Homo sapiens: one gene and its partner. The protein of the gene in region 1 interacts with the protein of each later gene in a biochemical or structural test. Each region holds a gene or a part of one and is shown in the gene's direction. Other genes may lie near its edges.

Evidence for each region.
Region 2: the proteins of LIF (region 1) and SORT1 interact in a biophysical measurement, tested with the Homo sapiens proteins (one study listed by IntAct).

Annotation. Positions count from the first base shown.
Region 1 is NC_000022.11:30,240,578-30,251,423, reverse strand, and holds the start of LIF (leukemia inhibitory factor isoform 1 precursor), read left to right. Parts: upstream 1-4,664; 5' UTR 4,665-4,728; coding exon 4,729-4,747; exon of another isoform or gene 4,748-4,919; coding exon of another isoform or gene 4,920-5,256; intron 5,257-6,490; coding exon 6,491-6,669; intron 6,670-7,362; coding exon 7,363-7,773; 3' UTR 7,774-10,846. UniProt on the Homo sapiens protein: LIF has the capacity to induce terminal differentiation in leukemic cells.
Region 2 is NC_000001.11:109,386,979-109,397,160, reverse strand, and holds part of SORT1 (sortilin isoform 1 preproprotein), read left to right. Parts: intron 1-4,025; exon of another isoform or gene 4,026-4,134; intron 4,135-10,182.

The DNA of each region.
Region 1 (10,846 bases):
ATGGCCCCACGAGGCTGTTATGACAGCATCCTCATTTGCAGAGGGGAAACCGAGGGTATGAGAAAGGAAGCCCGTTGTCCCGGGCCACATAGCTGGTTGTTGGGGCAGGAGGGATTTGAACCCACACCACTGGGGTGAGAACAGTGGAGGCACGGTCCGCTGGTGGCATCACACTCTCACTCCTCAAGCATTGAAGAGTGCGGTGCTCTTGCCTTTTTGGCCAGGATGCCCAATTGGCTGGGCTGTGCCCGGCATTCCTGAGCTTCACCATCTCCTCTGGCCACTCCTCACCAGCCCTGAGCCTGGGACCCACCCTCTGGCCCCCCGCTTCCTTCCTAGGCCCACCTGAGGGCTCTGCTCATTTTCCAGGTACCAGGGCCAGAGGGGATGGGGAAGGAAGGAGGGAGGCCAGCCTGGGCAGCCGGGGGTGCCCGGAGCGCTGTTTCTGGGTCGCTGGTCTTGGGGAATTCCCCAATGCCCGGAGAGCTGCTTACCTGGTGAGTAACTGCTGCTGGCTGCCCACACAGAATGCCTGACTGTGAAGGGACCTCCCATCTCACCCCTGCCCATGCCACTGACATGCTGCCCTCTCTCCTGAGAGCCCCAGGGTCCAGGAAAGAGACAGACAGGCAGGGGGCTGGCCCCCACCCCCGCATCCCCCCCCCAACCCCGGGGCTTTGCAGGGGGCGGCTGGTGATTCAAGCCCCTCAGAGCTGAGTTTGTCTCCTTCCTTCTCACATGGGGCCTGGGGGTGAATCAGCTTCTGGGGGCGGTAAGGCCAGGTCAGCTGCTGTCCTCAGATCAGGCTTGGGGTGGGGGTGGTGAGGGGCCAGGAAGGGGGCTCTGGGGGAGTGAGCACACTGCCCTGCCAGCCCCCTCCCACAACCTGTCTGATTTATCTGGGGCACCCTTGAAGCTGGAGGCTACGTGGGTATCTTGCCTCAATTTACCATCAGCAGAGGCTTGAGAGGTCTTGCTCCTGCCCAGCCTTCCCCGCTCAGCACCCTGGCATGGACCCAAGTTTCCCCATCTGTCAAATGAACCCCTGCTTCACAGGGAGGTCAGCACAATGGGTGATGATATGCAGACAGGTGGCTTGCTGGGTGCCCAGAACCATGCTGAGCCCTGAGCCCTCACAGCAGACCCACAAAGGCGGTACCATTATTCCCATTTTATAGTTGAAGAAACTGAGGCCAGGAGGTGGTAGTCCCTTCCCCAAAGTCACTCAGCTCATAACTGGCAGAGCCAAACCTCCAACCTGGTTGTGAATGAGGCCAGAGTCCATTCTTCAAACCTTCAGGCCTCTCCATCTCCTTTCCACAAGAGAGTTGGCACTGACAGTTTTTGGAAACTATAAAATGCTTTCTCAAAAAATACTTAACCTCTATTCATGTCAGAGTATAGCCCTGAGCCAGGTGCTGTCTAGAGCACAAGTGAGTCTCAGACCCCATTCAAACTCTCAAAGGTTGAGGAATAAGACTCATCCCCACTTGAAACACGAGCAGGCAGGACATGGCCGATGTGAGCTGGTCGGGGCCATGGGAGGCAGGGGAGGCTTCCTGGAGGAAGGCGACCCGAGCACTCCTGCCATGCCCTTCGCCCTCTCAGAGCAAGAGGTGCTGCAGGGATTGTTGTGGCCTGCAAGACAGAAGCCCCGGTTCCAGACCTGGCTCTGTTATTAACTCTTTATGTGAGCCCCACATAGTTATCTTCACCTCTCTGAGCCTCAATTTCCCCATCTGGAAAATAAGCAGCTGTGATATCCCAGGAGAGACTTGTGGATGGGGGGTAACAATCAGCAGAAGACGAGCAGCTGGGTAGCTGCACGTGCTAGAGGGTGCACTCCCTTCCTGGAGAGCAGTGATGGGTTGGATGGCACAGCCACCTGGAGACAGCACTCCTGGGTTCTGGCCTAGTAACCTCTGCTCAATGTCAGGGGGTCCCATGTGGCCGGGACTGTCCCGCTCACCCTGAGACCGGTCAAATCCCCAGCAGGCCCCATCTGCAGGAGCAGGACAGGCTGTGGATGAAGTCACAGCTGGAAGGGGCCAAGCCGGGGCTGCCACTCCAGGGTGGGGCCTGGGGTCGTGACCCTGGGAGCCGGCAGCCAAGAAGGGAGGGTGCCTTCCATGAGGGAGCCGGCCGGGGGCGGGGAACACACACACACAGCATAGAGAGGGAGGGAAGAAAACAAACTCCCAGAGACCAAAGTGGGCCTGGAGCGTAGCCTGGGCGGCTGATTCCTGGGGGCCGCAGCCACGTTGCAGGCGGCACACGGACTTGCGGCTCCGAGACCCTGCCCAGCCTTCCCTCCAGAGGCCCAGAGCAGGTGGTGCCTGGACATGGACAGGAGGGGGAGGCTGGGCCTGGGGCGCCGAGGGGCCCAGAGCACTTGGGGAGCACAAACCAAGTCAGGTACCGTGAGAGGAGGGGAAACTGAGGCACTGGAGGGGCCAGTCAGGGCTGGGGTTAAGGGGCCTTAGTGTCAGTGTCTTCTAGACCCTGTCCTCACTTCCTGTTTCCTGTGGGGTGGGGCTGAGATTAAACAGCGATTGGGGGTGGATTATAGGGCTGATGTGGGGTCTGGCTTGCCAGAAGGCATGCAAGGGCCTGGGGGTCCGCTTGGAAGGATGCAGGGGAGACTGGGCAGAATGGTAGATGTAGGGGCAGCTGCAGAACTCTTGAGCCTAATGAGAGACTCAGGCCGGGCGACGGGGGTTTGATGGGTGGAGGCCACAGTGAGCCCCTGGTCACATGGATTTGGGGTCCATGTCAGGAGAGCCAGGCTGAGTCAGGTGGCAGGGGTCTGGGTGATGTGGGATGGGACTGGGGACTGGTCCAGAGCTCACGTGCTCTGAGTGGTCAGGTCCTTGTGCAGGAGATGCTGGGGGAGGTGTAAGAAGAAGGGTTGAGCTGGGGTGTCCTGGGATGTGGGGTTACCTGAGCCAGGCCAGGGCAGGTGAGTCTCCTAGTAGTGTACGCTGACCCCAGAGCAAGTGTATAGGAGCAGTAAGTGCCAAGTGGGGCCCTCCATGGTCCCTCAAAGAAGAGACAAGGTGTGGGGTGAGAGGCAGGAAGGAGGAAGGAGAGCCAGTTCGGGAAGTGCCAGCTGGGATGGGCAGTTTTATCACCTCACATCCGAGGCCCTGCTGGGAGAGAATGGGGGGCAAGAGCGTAGATAAAGCAGGGTGTGTGTGTGGTGGGGAACGGCAGCAGGCACCAGGGCTCGTCCTGGCACGATGAAGGAGGAACCCGTGGCTGGGCAGGTCTGGGATGTGGCAAGAGGCAGGAACTGGGGGCATGGAGGATGGGCGAGGGGGCGGTGGGGGCCCGGGCGAGGCTGCAAGAGCTCCCTGGCCTTGGAAAACCAACTCACACACCTTGATCTCAGGTCAGGGTCAGGCGGAAGGGCTGGGAAGGGGCCACAGGGGACTAAATCATCTCCTGGTACTGGGGGTCCCCTGGCAGCTTTAGGGACGGCATGGCCCCAGACGCGTGGCCATGCTGTCTGGCCGGCATTCCCGCATCTCATAGGGTGTATTTATTTTCACTTTTCTGTTGCATTTCTTGGAGGTGTCCCTGTGCTCATTTTGCCCGGCTCCCCACTGCTCCTTTCTGCCCTTCCTCATTCACAAATCGCCTGGCCTCAGAAGACGCCAGAACATGTGACACTGCCTTAGAGCCTCTAGAAGCACTTTTTGGGGACCTCCATCATTCTCTGAGGCTGGGCTCAAAGGGGCTTCCAAGGCAGGTCTGGAAGGGACCAGCCACTTCTCAGTTTCCCCAACCATCAATCAGCACCCGGAGGAGGAAACTGGGGTACGATTTCGCCAAGCCTCTCTCAGTCCTGCTTCAGAATGGAAATGCTGGACCGCCTTCCCAGAAGCACCTTCCCAGAGTGTCCCGACAGAACTGAGTCAGTCACCCCTACCCCCATGTCTTCCTAGCCCCTTCCCCAGCCTCACAGGTACAGTGGTCAGCAGGGCGAGTGCACTGGTGGTGTCTGGAGGCCTGACCCTCTGGGGCCCTGGGCAACGTGTTCCCCTCGGAGCCCCTTGGGGCCCAGTGGCAATGTGCAGATTGGAGGAGGCTACCTCTGGGGTGGCTTCCAGCGCCCATGTTCAGTTCCACTTTATGACCGTCTAAAGTCCACGCCGGCCCCGGCCCCTCCTCCTGGAGCCTCCTTCTCAGCCAAGCCCTAGCCCTCCTCCTCCCACTGCCCCCCTAAAGCCCCCCAACCAGGGGGCACAGGGGCCAGTCTCCATCTGCTAGTCCAGACTCGCTACCTCCCCAAACCCAGGTGAGTCAGGGCCGTCTGGGGCGCCCACTGCTGGGACCCCTGCTGACTCGGCCAGGGGCCCCCTCCTGGCGATGCCCATCTTCAGACAACTCCCGGGACAAGCCAGGCAGGAAAACCACAGGGCGTTTTGTCGAAGGCTTCATTATAATTTTATCAATCAAATTCTTAGAAGAGGGAAAAAGTCTGTTCTCCCCACCCTCCCCCCTCACTCGTCCCCCCCCTTCACTCTCACTTTCTTCCATTCATAATTTCCTATGATGCACCTCAAACAACTTCCTGGACTGGGGATCCCGGCTAAATATAGCTGTTTCTGTCTTACAACACAGGCTCCAGTATATAAATCAGGCAAATTCCCCATTTGAGCATGAACCTCTGAAAACTGCCGGCATCTGAGGTTTCCTCCAAGGCCCTCTGAAGTGCAGCCCATAATGAAGGTCTTGGCGGCAGGTAAATACACCCGCCCCGCGCCGGCTTCGCGTCCCCGCTGCGGGGCGCGGCGGCAACTTGGGGCGCTTGGCAGCGCGAGCCGGACGCCCACCCGCCGCAGACACACGAACACTTGGGGCGCCCGCGCAGCCACCGGAGGCGCTGGGTGGCGGCCCGGAGCGAGCGCGGGCACATGGTCCCAAGCACCGCACGCCCCGCGGCAGGTTGGCGGCGAGGGAGGGGGCGCCGAGCCTTCCTCCTCCTCCTCTTCTTCCCCCTCTCCTTCTCCTCCTCCTCCTCCTCGCTCCGGACACTCGCTGGCTGCTCTTCCCTCTGCGCTTTCTCCCAGATTCACTCTCCCTCTCTCTTTTTCTTTTCTTTCTTTCTTTCCGCTTTCTCCTTTCCAACCGCGGTCCCGGGCTGCTCCCAGGGAGGGGCGCGGGCGGCGAGCAGCTTGCAAACTCCGGCCTGGGACGGGAGCAGGTGCCGCCTCCATCTGCTGGTGTCTGGAAGCGTGTGGTCTGCGCTAGGTGAGATATAGGGGTGTGGCCCCCCTCCCGCAGCCACCCCGGGGCCTCAGCACTGCCTTGGGATGCTGGGACGAACAGGGGACCCAGGAGAAGTGAACTTGAGGAGGCCCCTGTCCCCGCTGTTCCAGCATGGGGGATCCGGGGGAGGTCTCCAGCCTCACTCGCCCGCTGACCCCGGCCCCCACCATCTTCAGGTGCCCTTCTGCAGAGCCCTGGAAAAGCGTCTAAGGGGGCCTGGGGGGAGTCGGGAGAACAGGCCCCCCTGGGGGAGGGGCAAACCAGGACATGTCGGGACAGCTCCCAGCTCTCCTGTCACCTTTCACTTTCCTTCCTCCCCGCCCACCCGACTGCCTATGACCTTTTGCCTTTTCTCTCTCCTGGTGCACCATTTCCTCTCCCTCCCTGAGCCGGTGTGTGTGTGTTAGGAGGGAGGGGAACCCCTGGGACAAGGGACAGCGGATGAGTCGGGAGAAGGCATGGAGTCAGGGGCTGTCCGGAGCTGGGGGAACAGAGAGTTTTGAATGATGATTTGGGGATGGAGAGTGGGGACAGCCAGGCAGAAATGGGGTGAGCTTGAGTGAGATAGGGGACACTAGGGAAGGAAGAGATAGAGGATGATGGGGGCGGGGGCAGAATTGGGGGCAATTGGCCCAGGGAGCCAGAATCAAGTGGCAGGTTTGGGAGGGAGATGAGGGTCAACCGAGGACTCCTCCCCACTCCCCCATGCCCCGTGGCCCCCATGGGTGCCTGGCTTCGGAGATTTGGGCTGCAATGGGCCAGTGAGTGGGAAGCGCTGCTGAGGAACCTGGGCCACCACGGGAGGTGGGAAGAGAGGGGTCTCCTTTCTCCTGGTGCCTGCTGGGCCTGGGGCCTGGTGCCTTCCAGCCAGAGGGCCAGGGGGCCTTAGGACCTTTGCCTTCCTGAGGGAAAGGGTGGGATGGCTGGGAGTCTCTCCTGGACCCTGCACCCTTTGGGTGGAAATGGCTTGTGTCTTGCCCTCATCTTTACGTCATCCCAGAAGAGAGCAGGGAGAACTAAGGTAGAGAAAGGGAGACAGAGAAACACACGCAGTGACAGAGTGAAGACTAGGCCCCAGGAAGACAGCTGCAGGTGGTGAGGGGGAACCAGGAGTCCTCTCCCATGCGGCCATTGTTGGACCCCCATCCGGTGTGCCATGACCCCAGGCCACCCTTTCCTGCCTTTCTACTCATGGCTTCTTCCTGACTGTCCCCAGGAGTTGTGCCCCTGCTGTTGGTTCTGCACTGGAAACATGGGGCGGGGAGCCCCCTCCCCATCACCCCTGTCAACGCCACCTGTGCCATACGCCACCCATGTCACAACAACCTCATGAACCAGATCAGGAGCCAACTGGCACAGCTCAATGGCAGTGCCAATGCCCTCTTTATTCTCTATGTAAGTTACCCCTGGGATACTGACAGGAGATGGCAGGGAGGGGGCTTGTAAATATCATTAGGGGCTGTCCTGATCTGGGTTGAGGGGACCTTTTGGGGCTGGAAGGAGAGAATGGGGAGAGGGCTTGATTAAACCACCCCCAGACTCCCGCCACTTCCTGCCCAAGCTTCCCCAGGGAAGCTTCCCCAGGGTGCCCAGTTAGCAAGGGGAGAACTGAGTGCAAAGGTGGGGACCTGGCACTTCTTATCTTGTGATTGTCCTGCTGCAGGGAGCGAGGGATGGAGGGGAAATGGGCGTGAGGCACCAGGGAGATGCGGTTGAGAGGCAGTGGGCTGTGGGTGCTGGGCATGGAGGGGCGTCCCGGAACATTGTGAGTGCAGGGATGGAAGTACTTGTGTGTGGTGCCCCAGCTAGGGCTAGACACCGAGTTTTCCCTTCTGTCCCCTTAGGGTGGTGATGATGATGATGATGATAATGATGACTGCGTGCATGGCTCAGTCTTTGATCTTTAGCAAGGGCACTCACATTACAATTAGTTTTGGCTCTCATGACAATTCCAGATGCTTACAGGGCAAGGAGTTGGGTCCTCATGCGCTAGATGGGGAAACAGACGCAAGAGCTTGCCCAAAGGGTTGGCGGCAGGGCTGGGACACTGACCCCTGACTCCCACGTCACCTCCCTTCTGCCCCTCAGTACACAGCCCAGGGGGAGCCGTTCCCCAACAACCTGGACAAGCTATGTGGCCCCAACGTGACGGACTTCCCGCCCTTCCACGCCAACGGCACGGAGAAGGCCAAGCTGGTGGAGCTGTACCGCATAGTCGTGTACCTTGGCACCTCCCTGGGCAACATCACCCGGGACCAGAAGATCCTCAACCCCAGTGCCCTCAGCCTCCACAGCAAGCTCAACGCCACCGCCGACATCCTGCGAGGCCTCCTTAGCAACGTGCTGTGCCGCCTGTGCAGCAAGTACCACGTGGGCCATGTGGACGTGACCTACGGCCCTGACACCTCGGGTAAGGATGTCTTCCAGAAGAAGAAGCTGGGCTGTCAACTCCTGGGGAAGTATAAGCAGATCATCGCCGTGTTGGCCCAGGCCTTCTAGCAGGAGGTCTTGAAGTGTGCTGTGAACCGAGGGATCTCAGGAGTTGGGTCCAGATGTGGGGGCCTGTCCAAGGGTGGCTGGGGCCCAGGGCATCGCTAAACCCAAATGGGGGCTGCTGGCAGACCCCGAGGGTGCCTGGCCAGTCCACTCCACTCTGGGCTGGGCTGTGATGAAGCTGAGCAGAGTGGAAACTTCCATAGGGAGGGAGCTAGAAGAAGGTGCCCCTTCCTCTGGGAGATTGTGGACTGGGGAGCGTGGGCTGGACTTCTGCCTCTACTTGTCCCTTTGGCCCCTTGCTCACTTTGTGCAGTGAACAAACTACACAAGTCATCTACAAGAGCCCTGACCACAGGGTGAGACAGCAGGGCCCAGGGGAGTGGACCAGCCCCCAGCAAATTATCACCATCTGTGCCTTTGCTGCCCCTTAGGTTGGGACTTAGGTGGGCCAGAGGGGCTAGGATCCCAAAGGACTCCTTGTCCCCTAGAAGTTTGATGAGTGGAAGATAGAGAGGGGCCTCTGGGATGGAAGGCTGTCTTCTTTTGAGGATGATCAGAGAACTTGGGCATAGGAACAATCTGGCAGAAGTTTCCAGAAGGAGGTCACTTGGCATTCAGGCTCTTGGGGAGGCAGAGAAGCCACCTTCAGGCCTGGGAAGGAAGACACTGGGAGGAGGAGAGGCCTGGAAAGCTTTGGTAGGTTCTTCGTTCTCTTCCCCGTGATCTTCCCTGCAGCCTGGGATGGCCAGGGTCTGATGGCTGGACCTGCAGCAGGGGTTTGTGGAGGTGGGTAGGGCAGGGGCAGGTTGCTAAGTCAGGTGCAGAGGTTCTGAGGGACCCAGGCTCTTCCTCTGGGTAAAGGTCTGTAAGAAGGGGCTGGGGTAGCTCAGAGTAGCAGCTCACATCTGAGGCCCTGGGAGGCCTTGTGAGGTCACACAGAGGTACTTGAGGGGGACTGGAGGCCGTCTCTGGTCCCCAGGGCAAGGGAACAGCAGAACTTAGGGTCAGGGTCTCAGGGAACCCTGAGCTCCAAGCGTGCTGTGCGTCTGACCTGGCATGATTTCTATTTATTATGATATCCTATTTATATTAACTTATTGGTGCTTTCAGTGGCCAAGTTAATTCCCCTTTCCCTGGTCCCTACTCAACAAAATATGATGATGGCTCCCGACACAAGCGCCAGGGCCAGGGCTTAGCAGGGCCTGGTCTGGAAGTCGACAATGTTACAAGTGGAATAAGCCTTACGGGTGAAGCTCAGAGAAGGGTCGGATCTGAGAGAATGGGGAGGCCTGAGTGGGAGTGGGGGGCCTTGCTCCACCCCCCCCCATCCCCTACTGTGACTTGCTTTAGGGTGTCAGGGTCCAGGCTGCAGGGGCTGGGCCAATTTGTGGAGAGGCCGGGTGCCTTTCTGTCTTGATTCCAGGGGGCTGGTTCACACTGTTCTTGGGCGCCCCAGCATTGTGTTGTGAGGCGCACTGTTCCTGGCAGATATTGTGCCCCCTGGAGCAGTGGGCAAGACAGTCCTTGTGGCCCACCCTGTCCTTGTTTCTGTGTCCCCATGCTGCCTCTGAAATAGCGCCCTGGAACAACCCTGCCCCTGCACCCAGCATGCTCCGACACAGCAGGGAAGCTCCTCCTGTGGCCCGGACACCCATAGACGGTGCGGGGGGCCTGGCTGGGCCAGACCCCAGGAAGGTGGGGTAGACTGGGGGGATCAGCTGCCCATTGCTCCCAAGAGGAGGAGAGGGAGGCTGCAGATGCCTGGGACTCAGACCAGGAAGCTGTGGGCCCTCCTGCTCCACCCCCATCCCACTCCCACCCATGTCTGGGCTCCCAGGCAGGGAACCCGATCTCTTCCTTTGTGCTGGGGCCAGGCGAGTGGAGAAACGCCCTCCAGTCTGAGAGCAGGGGAGGGAAGGAGGCAGCAGAGTTGGGGCAGCTGCTCAGAGCAGTGTTCTGGCTTCTTCTCAAACCCTGAGCGGGCTGCCGGCCTCCAAGTTCCTCCGACAAGATGATGGTACTAATTATGGTACTTTTCACTCACTTTGCACCTTTCCCTGTCGCTCTCTAAGCACTTTACCTGGATGGCGCGTGGGCAGTGTGCAGGCAGGTCCTGAGGCCTGGGGTTGGGGTGGAGGGTGCGGCCCGGAGTTGTCCATCTGTCCATCCCAACAGCAAGACGAGGATGTGGCTGTTGAGATGTGGGCCACACTCACCCTTGTCCAGGATGCAGGGACTGCCTTCTCCTTCCTGCTTCATCCGGCTTAGCTTGGGGCTGGCTGCATTCCCCCAGGATGGGCTTCGAGAAAGACAAACTTGTCTGGAAACCAGAGTTGCTGATTCCACCCGGGGGGCCCGGCTGACTCGCCCATCACCTCATCTCCCTGTGGACTTGGGAGCTCTGTGCCAGGCCCACCTTGCGGCCCTGGCTCTGAGTCGCTCTCCCACCCAGCCTGGACTTGGCCCCATGGGACCCATCCTCAGTGCTCCCTCCAGATCCCGTCCGGCAGCTTGGCGTCCACCCTGCACAGCATCACTGAATCACAGAGCCTTTGCGTGAAACAGCTCTGCCAGGCCGGGAGCTGGGTTTCTCTTCCCTTTTTATCTGCTGGTGTGGACCACACCTGGGCCTGGCCGGAGGAAGAGAGAGTTTACCAAGAGAGATGTCTCCGGGCCCTTATTTATTATTTAAACATTTTTTTAAAAAGCACTGCTAGTTTACTTGTCTCTCCTCCCCATCGTCCCCATCGTCCTCCTTGTCCCTGACTTGGGGCACTTCCACCCTGACCCAGCCAGTCCAGCTCTGCCTTGCCGGCTCTCCAGAGTAGACATAGTGTGTGGGGTTGGAGCTCTGGCACCCGGGGAGGTAGCATTTCCCTGCAGATGGTACAGATGTTCCTGCCTTAGAGTCATCTCTAGTTCCCCACCTCAATCCCGGCATCCAGCCTTCAGTCCCGCCCACGTGCTAGCTCCGTGGGCCCACCGTGCGGCCTTAGAGGTTTCCCTCCTTCCTTTCCACTGAAAAGCACATGGCCTTGGGTGACAAATTCCTCTTTGATGAATGTACCCTGTGGGG
Region 2 (10,182 bases), on another chromosome or scaffold:
TTCAGGAGGCCCGAAGCAGCGATCTGGTCACCGTGTTTTAATAGTTAAGGGGACTAGCTTGGAAATGAGATGGCAATATTTATGTGATCTCTTTTACTGCTTCAGATTTGACCTTCTGTCATGGTACGGAAGTCTGACTAGCATGTCTATATCCCGTGGTGACAAGATTTTCAATAGTTAAGAAACGCATTGCACATATTCTGCTTTGAGCCAGCTCTTGGTCAAAAGACTTTCAAAATTATGGGATTTCTGTCCCTGGGGACAAGCAGCTCAACCTTTGCACACTACTGGACTGACAAAACTAATTATTAAGAAAGTCCTGGTTCCTTGCTTCAGCACAACTTGGGCATCTTTCTCCTATTTCTCTAAAATTAACAATTTAATCCTTGCTAGCCACATTTGCATAATGTATTTTCAATTCTATATATTTTCTCCCTTGCCTGTTTTCCTCTTTCAAAGAAAATGAATTGCACTTGGGGGCAGAGATGGGTGGCCAAGGCTCTGTGCCAGCACTTGTCCTTCTGTAACCGTTTTTCAGCGTCAGCCAAGCCTCAGTCTCCCTTTGGACTGCCTGGTTATCTGGACCATACTTGTTACCTGTAATAGAATTCTCTGATCTGAGGACACAAGACACAAATATTCAGGAATAATTGTGCTTAGTGTATCCCGAGCAGCAGCTGTGTAAAGGTAGCCAAGCTAGTGCTGGAGGGTGAGACAGGTTGGGTAGAATGAGTACTGGGAAGTCTTCCTACTTGATGAGAAAAAAAAATCGAATAGACTTCCTTCTCACAGTGGGGGATTGAGAAAGGCTTTACAACACTAATGCTTAATTTATACTGGACCACTTCCTTCCTTGAGCTAGCTGGTCACAGCATTCTTGCTCCATATTTCAAATTCTTCTCTCGCTGGTTGACCTAACTTTAGGTCTGCTGCTACTCCTGGATTTAGATTTACTCCTGTTTTTCTTTTTCTCTTTTTTTGTGAGATAGAGTCTTACCTCAGCCTCCTGAGTAGCTGGGACTACAGGTGTGCACCACTATGCCTAGCTAATTTTTGTGTAATTACTATTTTTTTTTTGAGATAGGGTCTCACTCTGTTGCCCAGGCTGGAATGCAGTGGTGTGATCACAGCTCACTGCAGCCCTGACCTCCTGGGCTCAAGTGATCCTCTCACCTCAGCCTCCCAAGTAGCCGGGACTACTGGTACATGCACCCAGCTAATTGTTCTTTTCTTTCTTTCTTTCTTTTTTTAAGAAACAGGGTTTTGCCATGTTCCCCAGGCTGGTCTTGAACTCCTGGGCTCAAGTGCTCCACCCACCTTAGCCTGCCACAGTGCTGAGATTAGAGGCGTGAGCCACTATGCCCTGCCTGGATTTATTCCTTGAGTCAGAGTCTTCCTGGTTAGTTTGAATTGATGTGTCATTTGTAATATATTGATTCCAAAGAAAGAGGTTGAAAAAACTGGCTCAGGGGTTCTAAGGCCAAATCTGTGGAAGAGTAGACCTAAAACCACTCATTCTTTGAAGTCCACATGTAAAGAAATTTTCTTCTATTTCTTTCATTTAGCTGTTTGCAATAATTTTTTTTTAGTTTTTCTCTCCCAGTCTTTTTTTCAGTGACCTTATTTAAAATAGCTATTTTGGCTGGGCACGGTGGCTCATGCCTGTAATCTTATCAATGTGGGAGGCCAAGGCAGGTGGATCACTTGAGGTCAGAAGTTCAAGACTAGCCTGGCCAACATGGTGAAACCCTGTCTCTACTAAAAATACAAAAGTTAGCCAGACGCGGTGGCATGCGCCTGTAATTCCAGTTATTCTGGAGGCTGAGGCATGACGATCACTTGAACCCAGGAGGCAGAGGTTGCAGCGAGCCGAGATCGCACCGTTGTACTCCAGCCTGGGTGACAGAGTGAGACTCTATCTCAAAAAAAAAAAAAAAAAAAAAAAAAAAAAAGTTTTTGCGTTTGTTAGTCATCCGTGGTCTCTTCTTCAGAGATCTCATCCTTTCTGTATCTGGTTAAAAAAAAAAAAAGTGGAGCCTTTGTTTAATATCATTTACCTTAAAAATGGTTAAGTAGTACTTCTTAACCAAGAATTGTTATGTAGTAGCCTGTTCTTCTGTTTATTTATTTGGTTTTAGAAGTCATAAAAAATCCTGAACTGTATTGAAGAGATCTAGTATTTTTGGACCGTTTATAAAACAGTGTGAAATAAAAGCATCAGCATGACAGAACAACTTTTTATCAGAGATATTGTACTTTGTACAACTGGGGAAGGAAGGTACATGTAGAATCATTTTTCCTACATAACATGACAGGATTCGAGTCCCAAGAAAAAGCAAAAGTTCATGGTTCTCTTATTTCTTTTAACTTGGTCCTGTTTCATTTCAAGCCACATTAATTCACATCATCAATGTATGTGAATGCCCTCCAAATGCCTAGATCTGTGCTAGATGCTGGGGTGCCAAGATACAAAGAAAAGATCATTCAGACTGGAGAATGAAAAGCCTCAGAAGGTTATAGCAAACTACTAGACCTGTGTCTGTGGCTTATGAGGATATATTAGCATTTAACCTGTCTTCTCAAGAAAGCACGGTAAAGCTAAAGCATAATAGTGCGTTTATATTACGGTTTAAGGAGACCGGTGTCCTGATGACCACTCAGGCTTCTCTGTCCATGAAATCCAGCAGGTTTTTCTCTTTGCCCAAGCCTCCCTTTTTCTCTCTAAGGTTTTTTTTCTCATATCATTTCTTTTCAATCTATTAATTTAAAATATATTTAAAGTGCATTGGGTTTATTACACACAGCATATATTTTTTCACATAGAAGTCCTAATGATTAAGTGCTTTATTTTAGGAGTTGAGGCAGGAGAGGAAAACATTTTCCTTTCTAGTTACAGTATTACAAGTTAGCTATAATAGACTCATGGGAAAGTGGAAATAAAAAATACTGGCTATTACTAAAAAAACAAACAAAAGGGATGACAAGAAAACGAAGGAGAAAGATAAATAGTTATAACTTTCCAAAAATTATGCTCCCTAATTTTGTTCTAAGGGTTTGACTTACCATGGTAAGGTGGTATAGCACTGCCTTATCTGGACTGCCTGCATTTGAACCCTGGCCATGTCACTGTGTGATCCTGGGTGAGTTACTTAAGTTTTCTGTGTCTCAGTTCCTAATCTGTAAAGTGAAGATAAGAGCACTTAATTTGTAGGGTGGTTGTGAGAATTAAATGAGTGTGTGTTAAATTATATATACATAATATATACGTATATGTATATTATTGTATAAATATATATTTGTATTACATAATATATGCATATGTAATATTGTATTTGTAATGAGTTATAGTATGTATTACAACATATCACATTGTGTTGTATAATCTATACATATGTAATAACTCATTAGAAGAATGTCTGGCACATAATTAGCACTCAGCAATTAGCTATCATTTATAAATGCTCTCTTCTTAGACTCAATAATCTTCCTTTTGCCTGGAACTCAAAACTGTTTTCATGCCACATTTTTAACTGATTCTTTCCTTCAGCTGCTTGGAGTATTCATGACATGTATAACCTTTGTACATGCGTGAAATTGAGCAGGCCTAGAAGACTTTATTGTTGGTTACTAAGTTGGATTGCTTCAAAACATTTCTGCTGTAAGCACCCCTTTGAGGGTAGGCATGAAACTGTCTTAAAGGAACAGATGAAATGCCTTGGCCAGAGTTGTGGTGGTGGCTGACATAATTTCCTTACTTCTCATTCCTGTGTACAGACCATTTGACAATTTCCTTAAAACTTTTTAAACTTATGATGAATAAAGCCAGGAACTCTTGCTTATTTTCTGTCCTCCCTCTGCTCCTGTCACTAACTACTTCTGTAAACATAACTTCCCAACTTCTACTCCAACTTTAAAGCATCTGGTTCCTTAAATAAACAGGCCCTGTAGAGAGGCCGTGTTGTATGGGGTGTCAGCTCTGGGAAGAATGCGTGTGTTTGTTTGCTGGCTCTGGCAGGGTTGAGTCCAAGCTGACAGGACTGAGTGTGCCTGTCAGAGGCTTCAGGGAGCTGCCGCTGAAGACCTCGGCCTGTTGTTGTGAATCGCCAGACCTTTGTAACACCCGGAAGTCTGAAGGTCAGTCCTTTAATGCCCCGGAACTTCCTAACTGCCTCATTTCTTCCAATACTTGGCCTCTCTTCATCCTACCTTCCCTAGCACCCCCAGCCGTCTAGCTTATTTAATAGTCTCTTGAGTTCTGTTTCTTCCATTCAGCTTTGGATCAAGGAGTAGGAACTCTGTAGGATCTCCTTCTTGGTCCTGGTTGAGCAGAGTGAGCGAAACCTTCATGAAGAGTCTTCTCTCATGCAATGTATAGTCAGACCTTTAGCCCCTAGAGGGATGTTAAAATGACTTATGCATTGGATATTTCAGTAAGAAGTATCAGCAGATTTGATGAAGTGTAATTTATCTGGGGAAAGGTTAGTCTTCATCTGAAGTTTGGTTGGGATGAGAGTAGAAAGCTAGCCAGGTATGACAGATGGCTCCAAGGGAATGCAGTGTTAACAATTAGGTAAGTTCTCTGCTGACTCAAATGTTTGGCTCTGTGCACAGTGATTTTTAATTAGAAATCTGAGTCTCATGTCTGCTTGTGGAAATAATTGGAAGAAGGCTTATGTTCTGTTCAATTTCTAATGGCTATTTTCTTTTTGTGATTATTAACAACAATAATAGGCTTTCTATCCTGCTGTTTTGATCAGATCTTTCATGTCAGGGTCACAGATACTATTAGCAGTTTCTTCTGCACTCTGCCAGTTTCCAGTCAACTCTCGTCAACAGGCATTGGGTTCTCAGTGGGTGACTGCAGAGTCTGCGTTCCCCAACTTTGTCCCAGTTGGCCTGTTACCCTTGTGTGACCATCACATGCTGGGCAGTGCTTAGCACCAAGTTGTAATGGTCAGGACGGGGGAGTAACGTTTGTTCTTCTCCCTCCTTCCTACCTAATCCTACCCCTCAATTTTTTTTACAGAAAGTGAACTATGTTTTGAGGCTGCAGAAATGAGGCTCAGATATTTTATATAATTAGGAGCTAATATTAAGGCAGACAAAGCCATCACATTTGACATGTAATTTAAAATACAGCTTTTCTAGAAACAACAAAACTGTGGCAATGGCTCTGACAATATTATGAACTAGATACTGCATTTGTAGATTTCTACAAGTTTCAGTTCCCTTTCTCTCCTTTTGTCATCAGTGTTTTTATTGCATCTTTTACTTCTATTTTTAAAAACTTGGTGAAAACTTGTTCTTCCCACTATGTGGTCTCAGTGATTTGTATGCAGGTGGATTTGAGGATTAATGGGGCTTGAAGAACAAGCTGATCAATTTCAGTCAGTTCTAGGCAGCTTTTTTGTTCTTGTTTCAATGGTGACTGCAGTCAAAGTTGGGTTAGTAATATGTTGCTTTGAGATAGTTTGGTTGAATGAATGTTCATGACAGATTCCTCATACCTATGAAAATTTTTAGGTGAAAGATGGAGGCTGTTTTTCCTTCTCTATCCCCAATCTCAATCTCAGGAAACCACAGTAAAAACAAAATCCTTCCACTCAGAACCTGTCGTGTTTTGCCGAGGAAGTTTTCTGTGAATGTAACTTATTTTCTGTTTTGTGTTTTAGTCTCTGGCCCTCGATTCCTCATCTACAGCACAAGAAGTTTTGGACTAGCTTTAAAATTTCTTTCAAAAATTCTATGATTCATATGGGAGAGGCCAGAGGTTGTGATCACAAATGTTTTCCTGGCTGATTCCAAATTTAGAAGCAAACTGTGGCTGTTTGACTTCCCAGTCAAACTTGAACATAGCATGGATTTCACATTTAGGGGTGTTTTACTACCACCTCCAGAACTTGCTTCAGTGAAATATGCATGTTCTTAAAGATAGCAGGAGTACTTTTTTTCATGTAGTTATGAAAGACATTTTTCTCTTTTATTTTGGGGGTAATATTTTACCGTTTGTTCCTTGTTGGCTGAAAAATCTAATGCTAATAAAAGCTACTAGCTTGAATAGTCCAAAAGCAAACCCAACAGATAGCAGTAAATTCATTTTTCTTTTTCCCTTTCCTATAGTACTCTGCCAAAACTGGGGCTTTTTTTCTTCATCCTGGCTGCCTGTGTGTTTGAAAATAGATGGTCAGCTTACCATAAATATATTCACATGTAGAAACTTATATGTGATTAATTGGCTTGATTTATTTTTATCAGAAGAAAACGTATGTATGTTCCTTCTCTGGCTTATGAATACTATCCGTCTTATGTTTGCTTTGGATAAGCATTTTAGTCTTCCTGTATGTCCTAAAACGCGCGCGCGCACACACACACACACACACACACACACATACACACACACACACACACTTTCTAATATTGTACTGAAGCCAGTTTGCAAGTCTGGTTCCACAGTACAATTGCTCTGAAGGACCAGGAGAAATTGAACTGGGAAGGAAAATTTGTATTAACTTCAATAATTCCCAGACAAGTTAGTTCAAATCATTTTTATCTAGTATTTGCTATTTGTCACAAAGGATTCAAAACATAAATATGTTGTATACAAAATCTCAAAGAGATGTCTCAATACCCAGATTTGGGTCCTGGCTCTGCTGCTTCATAGCTGTGTGATTATGGAAAATCACTTAACTTCAGTGGTCTTTACAGTTGTTTTTTAAACTAGAGCAGCAGCTCTTAGGATTGTTTGGAGGGTCAAATGAGAAGTTTTATCAACGTGTTTTGTTAAAGGTAAAGTACTATATAGATGTCATTCATTTAGACACTTACTGAGCTGCCTGCCATGTACTGAGTGGAGTCCAGACCTGTGCATAAACAAAGCAAAGCACTGGGGCTATCTTAAGGATTTAGGTGTTCAGAGATGTTTCACTGGGAGTTTGGAAGAAGGCTTGACCACTGCAGTGCAGTGTTCTGGGAAAGCCCTCTGGCTGAAGAGAGAATCAAAGTGGAGGTGATTTTTAGGGAGATCTGTAACGGCACGAAGGAAGTAGGAAAATCCAAGATATGTTCAAGGGATGGTCAACAGAAACTTTATTTTAGGGTGAGGTAGTTGATGGGGAGTATGACTAAGGTTTCCAGGAAAACATATAGGGAAGTTAAAAAAAAGATAGCTCTTTTGTGGGGGATGGAAAGAGAGGAGGGGCGTGGGTAGTGAGTTTGGCAAAAGGACTTACTTGTGAAAGAGAGAGTTTTAACAGATAGTGCTAGACATGAGGCTAGAGCTGGAGGAACCAGAGGTAGAAATGGGGAGCCAAGAAGAGTTCCCCTTTCAGAGGCCGGCCATTGCTTTGGTCTTGGATGTGAAGGTCCCAGAGGAAAGCAGAACAGAAGGTGAGGCAGACCATCCTTTATACTTGAAGTGCTAACGTTTCCAAAAAGCACTCCTAAACTTCTGGACCTGGTTGAAGAAGAATGTGAGCCAAGGCATGAGGAAGCCAGGAGCTGTAAGACAGTGATGCCTATGAACAGATTTTTCTGAACATTTGTGAACAAGGATAAGGTTGAACTCTTGCTGATAATGTGCTTAATGGTTTGAATCATGGATTATTGGGCCGATTAGCTGGTCAGAGCCCTTTTGCTGATGCGGCTGGCTGACTTGCTTACTGGCCAAGAGCTGGGAGTAGAACACAGATGTCCCAACATGGTGCTGCATTTGGAAGTGTTTCATAGGAGTGTTGAAATCAATGCATTTGCTTTAGGGATAAGGCAAAGTTATGAGATCCCAGTTATAAGTAATATAGTTGTGAATTCTACTCTTTTTCTCAAGGTCATAGTACCCTCAACAGAGCTCAACTAGCCTTTCTAGGCCTCAGTTTCCCGTCACATAAAATGGAGGATTATCATGAAGTTTTGAAGGGAAGATATATGTGAAAATATTTTGAAACCTTGAAGTACCGTATGAGTATGATTTGTATAATTCCTTAATAAACCTGCTGATGTGTCACAGCCCCCACAGGGCCTGCTTGTCAGCCAGGTGATCCTGATAGATACAGCCCTTGAGCCAAACCCTGAGGAGCATGTGTATTAAAGCAGACGGATGAGGCATAAATGCGTTTGGTTTATCACTTGGCAGAGTTGGATGACAGGCTTGGGTGGGGGTGGCAAGAATTAAAGTGAGTCAAGATTGGCAGAAATGTAAGACGTGTATGTAGTGGTTTTCTTCTTTTTTTAAGCCTTTGTGATTATGTCAAACTTTTGTTAATATAATTGATGATGGTTTGAGGCAGTAGTTTGGGGGAACAGGATCTCAGGTATTAGATCTGGATTCAAACTTCAGTGGTGACCATGGACAAATTAACCTCTCTGAACCTTAGATTTTTCATCTATGAAATGGGAGTACTAATACTACCTCTTAGGGTCATTGTGAAGATAGTACAGGATTTAGTGTATATTCTTTTGTTGAGGATTTCTTGTAATGATTTTCATTACAAAGCTTCTGACACATTACCAGTTAGATGCTTAAATATTTGTACATGTGCTTAATTTTTTTCATATCTCTAATATTTCTAGAGAATTATTATAGGTACTCACAAGAACTGCATCTGGATTAAGACATATTAGCCCTGGCTAAGCAGGGTGACTCACACCTATAATCCCAAGATTTTTGGAGTCTGAGGCAAGAGAATCACTTGAGCCCATGAGTTTGAAACCAGCCTGGGCAACATAGTGAGACCCCATCTGTATAAAAAAATTTTTTTAATTAGCCTGGTATGGTAGCATATGCCGGTAGCCCTAGCCACACAAGAGTCTGAGGTGAGGGGATCACTTGAGCCCAGGAGTTTTGAGGCTGTCGTGAGCTATGATTGCGCCGCTGCATTCCAGTCTGGGCAACAGAGCGAGATACTGTCTTCCAAAAATACAAAAAAATTTATTAGGGGTAGGTAGTGGTGCACATCTAGAGTTCCAGCTATTTGGAAGGCTGAGGCAGGAGGATAGCTTGAGCCCAGGAGTTCAAAGCTATAGGACACTGTGATCGCATCTGTGAATAACCACTGTACGCCAGCCTGGGCAACATAGTGAGGTCCCATATCTAAAAGGAAAAAAAAATGTACTACTTGTATCACTGGACTCAGGATGAAAAAAGAGGAGGGTGGGAGATAGGTTTAGGCAGAGATCATCTATTCAAAATGCCTTTCTTTCTTTTTCTTTTTTTTTTGAGACAGGGTCTCGCTCTGTTGCCCAGGCTGGAGTGCAGTGGCACTATCTCGGCTCACTGCAACCTCCGCCTCTGGGGCTCAAGCAGTTCTCTGCCTCAGCCCCCCAAGTAGCTGGGATTACAGGTGCCCGCCACCACACCCGGCTAATTTTTGTATTTTTAGTAGAGATGGGGTTTCACCATCTTGGCCAGGCTGGTCTTAAACTCCTGACCTCGTGATCCACCCACCTCGGCCCCAAAGTGTTGGGATTGCAGGCGTGAGCCACCGCGCCCAGCCCAAAATGCCTTTCTTGAAGCTATGGGAGATAGAGAAGAAAATAATCAGATTAATAATCAGAAAACAGTAATCAGATACCTGGTCATCTGGTTATAATAGCTTCAAGCATATATGGTTAAATAGTTTTTGTTTTGTTTTAAAACAAAATTTTAAATTTTAAACAAAATTTAAAAATTTAAGAGACATGGTCTTTACTGTGTCACCCAGACTGGAGTGCAGGGGTGTAATCATGGTTTGTTGTAACCTTGAATTCCTGGGCTCAAGTGATCCTCCTGCCTCAGCCTCTGCAGTAGCTAGGACTACAGGCACATATCCCTGTGCCTGGCTAGTAAATAGGTTGAAATAACTTAAAGTTATTTATTTTTATTTATTTATTTTTTGAGACTGAGTCTCACTGTTGTCCTGGCTGGATGGAGTACAGTGGCATGATTTCAGCTCACTGCAACCTCTGCCTCCTGGGTTCAAGTGATCCTCCTGCCTCAGCCTCCAAAGTAGCTGGGACTGCAGATGTGCACCACCACACCTGGCTAATTTTTGTATTTTTAGTAGAGATGGGGTTTCACCATGTTGGCCAGGCTGGTCTTGAACTCCTGACCTCAGGTGATCTGCCTGCCTCAGCCTCCCAAAGTGCTGGGATTACAGGCATGAGCCACTGCACCTGACCAAATTATTTTTTAAAGACTATAATTTAATA